Linked DNA regions of Homo sapiens. The protein of the gene in region 2 interacts with the protein of the main gene of each other region in a pairwise test. Each region holds a gene or a part of one and is shown on either strand. Other genes may lie near its edges. The genes, in order: PDAP1 and PELI1.

What was found.
Region 1: the proteins of PELI1 (region 2) and PDAP1 interact in binary tests that used the Homo sapiens proteins (3 or more experiments, as listed by UniProt).

Annotation. Positions count from the first base shown.
Region 1 is NC_000007.14:99,396,386-99,398,597, forward strand, and holds part of PDAP1 (28 kDa heat- and acid-stable phosphoprotein), read right to left. Parts: intron 1,629-2,212; coding exon 1,477-1,628; intron 356-1,476; coding exon 297-355; 3' UTR 1-296. UniProt on the Homo sapiens protein: Enhances PDGFA-stimulated cell growth in fibroblasts, but inhibits the mitogenic effect of PDGFB.
Region 2 is NC_000002.12:64,102,679-64,106,703, forward strand, and holds part of PELI1 (E3 ubiquitin-protein ligase pellino homolog 1), read right to left. Parts: intron 2,153-4,025; coding exon 2,023-2,152; intron 1,920-2,022; exon of another isoform or gene 1,879-1,919; coding exon of another isoform or gene 1,876-1,878; intron 1-1,875. UniProt on the Homo sapiens protein: E3 ubiquitin ligase catalyzing the covalent attachment of ubiquitin moieties onto substrate proteins. Involved in the TLR and IL-1 signaling pathways via interaction with the complex containing IRAK kinases and TRAF6.

The DNA.
Region 1 (2,212 bases), on a different chromosome or scaffold from region 2:
AGGCACCCCCCAGCAAGGGCTCTGAATTCTAAAAACAGCAAAAACATTCAAATGGTTACATATGAAATGCTGTCCTGCATCTTTCTGTCTCAAAGATAGCAGCTACCCCTCCCCCAGTCCCCCCCCCCATCCCCCAAACAATTTCTGTGCCAAGATGAAGAGGAGGCCCCAGGCCATGGGGGGCTCCTGGCCATGAGGGGCTGTTGCAGCGGCGCCAGGGCACAGGGTGGGCGAGACACAGCAGAGGTCCTGGCAGCGCGGCCCAGGTCCCCGGCATCTCCTCCCACGGGTCGCAGTTACTTATTCAGGGAGAGTGACTGCATTCGTTTTCCTGACAATGTGGCATCGTCTTTTGCTGAGGGGTGGGAGAAGGGCAGGGGTTAAAACAAAGCAACCCCCCACCCCCTCCCAACACACGTGCCAGAACCCTAGAACTTTAGGTCTGAAAGGCTGCAGAAAACATTCTGTGCAACAGAGAAGAGCCGAGGCGTGGGAGAGGATTTCTGCTGCAGCTGTAACCCCGGGCCCCCCGACATTCCCGACACGCTTCAGTGGCCAGACCACCTTATAGAAAGCTGTTCCTTCCACAAAGCCCCACCAACACACACTCTTGTGGGCAAACGGAAACTTCTCACCCCACCTCCCAGCAGAACCCTGTAATTCTAACCTCCCTCCACGGGTTCTGAAGTCTAAAATTTAAACATTCCAACAGTTACATGTGAAGTCCTTTCCTGCTTGGGGTTTGTGAAGCAGGGTTGAATGGGAAGTTGGGATCACTGGATTTCTGGTGCGGGTGACAATGTCCCTGAGCAATTGGTTTCCCCTTTCCAGGCCTGCTTCCTCATGGTCTGGTGAGGAGGCAGGACAGATGGACATGTAGGGGCTCTCACAGACCCCCGGGAGATGGAATGTTGCAAGTTGAATGCTCCTATAAACTGGACCAACTCCCATAGCCACTCTGGCCTAGAGGAACCTCCACCATCTCTGGCCTGCCTGGAGGGGAGAGCACAGGAAAAGGGATGCCTGGGCTGGATGTCAAGCCAGTCTGCACTGCTGTGTATCCAGCTCACCCTCCCAAGCCCTGCAGATGGACAGCGGTGACCTCAGGCATCTCTCCTGGGTTCCCAAGGCACCAGAGACCTTAGTGGGACCTGTGAGCCTCAGGCAAGGTCTGTACTAGGGGCATGGTTTCCTGTGACCTCCCGCTGTTGGGAGCAGGAGTGACTGTCCACCTACTGTGGACGGTGCTCTGCTGAGACTTCAACCTACATCCGACCCCATGATGTCGCTGGACCCTCCTGGTCCCCGAGGGAGTGGCAGGCACAGGGAGGGTGGCCCTCTCCTGAACGACCTCCTAGGCAGCAGTCACTCCTCACCTCATTGTCACCTCGCGGACAGGGACACGAGTTCAGTGCTTTGTGGCTGGCCCAGGACCAGAGTTGGGGCCTGTCCCTGCGTGCGCAGCCCAGCCCTTACCTTTCCTTTCCTCTTCCTTCTTCCGGGCAGCCTCCTCCCGCTGTTTCCGGATGATGGCCAGCCGGGCCAGGTCAGCCTTGGCTTGCTCTGTCTTCCCGGCCAAGTGCATTTTCATGTAACGCTCTTTTGCCTTCTGCTTCTCAATCTCTTCTCTGTGTGGATAAAATGGTGTCATGGGGACATCTTTCCTACCACTGTTTGCCAAACTGGACGGGAGTCAGAATAAAGGCCAAGGATTCGGCCTAGGGCCGAGGTGGAAGGGGTGCCCTGGCTGTGAGTCCCTGCCTCCATGAACCCCCTGCTTGGTGGACGTTCACCAAGCAAGTGAGCAGGAGGGAGAGGCCCAGGGAGAAAACATCTGCGATGTCCAGAAAGCCTCAGAGGGAAAGGGGACAATGTCCAGCTACAGCAGGGAGGGGAAGATGCCTGAGGGCTTCATGATCAGGCTCTGGCGGCCATGGAGAGAAGGGGGACCAGGCCAAGAGTGTTCCAGAGAAGATGACCAGGAGGATGAAAGCAGTGGGGACCACATCCTACAAGGAAGGAAGGGCTGGGCATGGTGGCTCAGGCCTGTAATCCCAGCACTCTGGGAGGCCAAGACAAGAGGATCACTTGAGGCTGTAAGTTTGAGACCTGCCTGGGCAATATAGCAAGACTCTGTACAAAATAGAAAATTTAAAAATTAGCCAGGTGTGGTGGCACACATGGCTAAGGCAGCATGGCTCCCAGCTACATG
Region 2 (4,025 bases):
CTGAGAATAAAAACTATGTCAAGTTACGTTTGAGTCTCACTGGCCTAGAACGCAGGGTTTTAACTACTCATCCCAGATGACTGCCAGACTAAATGCTTAATTTTCATCATGACCTCACAAATACATTCCTCCAAAATTTAAAGAGGAGGAGTCAATCTTTTTTTTTTTTTTTTTTTTAAACTGAGACAGGGTCTCACTCTGTCACTCAGGCTGCAGTACAGTGGCATGATCTCAGCTCACTGCAGCCTCTGCCTCCCGGGCTCAAGTGATCCTCCCACTTCAGCCTGCCAAGTAGCTGGGACTTCGGGGCATGCCACCACGCTTGGCTAATTTTTTGTATTTTTGGTGGAGATGGAGTTTCACCATGTTGCCCAGGCTGGTCTCGAACTCCCGAGCTCAAGTGATCCGCCCACCTTGGCCTCTCAAGTGCTGGGATTATAGGTGTGAGCTACCGCACCCAGCCAAGAGTCAATCTGTGATCCCTAAGATTCTTATTGCCTAGTAAAGATGAAAGATGAAAAAGAGATAACAATGAAAACATGAGGGCATGGCAGAGTAAAATAGGAAGAAAAGTACAGAATATGGTATTACAGAGGCAGGGATTAGAAATATTTTCCCTGATAGTGGTTTTCAACCAGAGGTAGTATTAGCAGTCTAAGGGGCATCTGAAAATATGCTGTGCATTTTTTGGCTGTTACGAGGATTTGCAGGCTCAAATGGCATTTTGTGGGTGAAGGACCTATAAATGTCCTGTAGTATGTGGGAAAGTACTGAACAATGAAAAAGTGGCATACCCAAAATGTCAAGAGCACTCCGGGGGGAGCTACTGTAAGAAGCTCCTCAGATTCAATCAATCTGAGGTTTACTTCCACCACCTGCTTAGTATATTCCTTCTCGCCAAAGGAGCAAAAAGAAACTGTCCCTTTTCTGCACCAACTGGCTCCCAAATAGTAACAGAGGAGTCCTAGTCAAGGCCTAAGGATTCTTTCACAAATCAAACTGGATATAAAACAAAGCTGAAAAGCCAATTACCTTCAGACACTGAAGCTGCAACCTAAAACCACATCATATGCCAATTTTTCTGTCTCTTGTTTATTTAATTTACAAAGATATGCTTCAGATGGTATAATATTAATGTACATCCTAGGGCTACTTAGCTAAAGATACAGGTACTTCCAGGAGTCAAAGAACTCTTTCTAATTTTTCTTATTTGCTCATTACAATATTAAATTCTTTGTAACACAAAGTCAGTGTTATAAAATTGGAGGCAGATGAATTCACAGAAAATATAAAGATGTGAAATTCCCCCTCCTTGTCTGTCACTCTAGGAAAAGCCCAAGTATCCTGAAATGGTGGTCCAGCTTCTGGAAATTTTGTTAGAAGAATACAAGGGGGCTAGAAGCATGAAATAGGCTAGGGGGTTGAGAAGTTATATTGTAGATGCAGTTGGATATTGCCTTCATAGCTTTGATTCAACTTAATAATTATTGAGGTCTACTTTGTGCAAGGTACTATGCTCAAATATATGAAGTTATAAACCAAAAATGAATACAACCAATACAAAGAATCTTAAGTAAAGACCCTTAGTTTAAAAATTACCTCATCCAAATGTGCTTCTAATACCTGAATACACATATTATACATCACATTCTTCATCCAGTCCAGGGAGACCCCTCTAGTAACAGAGTGGGAACTTCCCACTTCTCAGGGCAGACAGCTGCATAATTCTAAGTACTAGATAAAGCCCTGTCCCCCATCCCACCTCTTTTAATAAGGAAACAGAGTGTTTCCTTCTAATTTCCACCCACTGATCCTGGTTTGTCATTTTTTTTTTAAAAGTCCAATTCCCCTTCCATATGGCAGCTCTTCAAATACCATGTCTCCAAAGTCTCTTCTCCAATCCAAACAAAAGGCAATTTCTGAAATAGAAATGTAAGGGGAATGCTAGAGAATACAAACAACACATAAAAGTCTTTCAAATTCTCCAAGTTAATTTATGTAGCTTTTTTTTTTTTTTTTTACCTTTGCAGCCTGAGGAGTACAAGCAATATGCACAGTGCTGGGCTTCACCCCATTTGCCTTAGGTCTTTTAAACAAAGCAAACCTACTTTTCCTCCTTCCTCTATCGCCATTTGGGAGAGACCCATTATACCTGATGGGGGAAAAAAAGTATAGGTGATCTCTTGCAAGAACTGCACAATTATAAAACAAATGTTTGACTTTGCCTTGCAGAATCAATTCCCAATTAATTATCTATTAACACATTATAATTATTTAAAATTCCTTTGAGCAACTGTTGATCTCCATACCAGGTGCCAGTGTGTGAAACAAAATGAGATTCTTTTTCTGGCTTCATTCCAAGTCACAGAGAACCTTTTGGATTATACACAGATTCGTGTTATCTCTATTTTTTTCCTTCCCTCTTTTATGGAAGATAATTAAGAGCTGATTAATGGCATGTCTGACTCCTTATGACTCATTCTGTTTTTTTAAGGTGAACTGTTTGCATGTGCTAATACAACCTTTAAAAAGTACAGTATGTATTGTTTAAAACACAATCTCCTTTAATTGTGAACCAAACACTTTAAATAGCTGAACTTTTGAAGTAAGGAATTTTTAGATTTGTTAAGTCTTAGCTACCTGAATGTACAAATGCACTCTCATTATGTTAGCAGAACCTGTCCAACAGACATGTTTGCTAAGTAGTAAACATACTTTTGTTGTTCAGATCTTATGACCATTTCTCCATAACATGTACACATACACACACACACACATATACATCCTAAAGGTAAGCAAGTACTAAACCAATGGAAACAAGTTAAAAACAAAATAAAAATATTTGGGTGTTTACTATGTACCAGGCACTATTGAATGCTATCCCATACACATCACCTCACTAAATCTACCCTTGCAAAAATTCTACTAGATTGAAATCACTGTCCCCATTTTTGTACATTAGGAAACAGACTCAGAAGAATTATATTCTGAAGTGACACTGGCAAAGCCAGAATTTGAATTTAAGTATGTTTGTCATGTGGTTATGTCATTCTTTACTGCTTCATTGAGGCATGAGCAGTAGCTTAATAATAATCTTTCCTCATTCACCGTCCACCTCCCCTGCCCCCGCCCCCTGACAAATCTTGGGTTTGATGATCTACCATATGTAGTTGGTCAATCTAGGGGGAAAGGAAGCAGGGAACAGGGACAGTTTTGAGGCTGGAGGAGGAAGTGATTATAAAATGGCCTGTAATTGTGGCTGGCAAGGAAGAATGTTTTAAAGCTGAGAAGAGAGTTTACTCAATGACTGCCATATATAGAAACTACATTGACCCTTTATAAAAAATAAAATACTTTGTATTGGAGAAAGCCCTTGGTAATGTTGCTAGCCTTGCTGTAAGTCCAAAGTACAGCCCCTTAGCTAATAATTATTTTAGCTATTTTAGGCTTTGTATTGCCCCCAGACCCTCTGTCGATTCCTCACTGCCCCTTCACTACTGTCCTCTGAGTTGCATGACTCATCCCACTTCTGGATCTTGCTCTTTAGTCCCACATTGCGTTCCTGTAGTTCAAAGCTCTTTTCTAAGCAGCAACAGCATGAAACCTTGTCCAGCTTCACTTCTAGAGGGTTGAGAAGAAAAATTATCTGCATTTTAAGACACCAAGTACCAGACACAGAGACAATTACTGTTGCTAATGATTAACTGAGGAACCCATAGGCTAAGACTGGCGGTTTAAAACCCTAAGCTAAATATTAAACTATTCTTCAAATGACTCTCAAATTTCCTGCTAGAAGAATTTAATCTGGAAAAGTTTTTGGTAGTTAAGAGCTGTTTGTCATTGATACCATTAAAATCTATGTGATTTGAAGTTCTAATACTGTAGTTACTATGCTAAATTTATGATCTTTTAAAGCTTTGTTTCTGAGAAAAGAATTTTAAGTCTCAAAGGGCCTTAGATGATCTTATCTGTCATTTTTACAGACAAGGAAACTAAGGCCCAGGATGGTTCAGTGACTTGCCCAA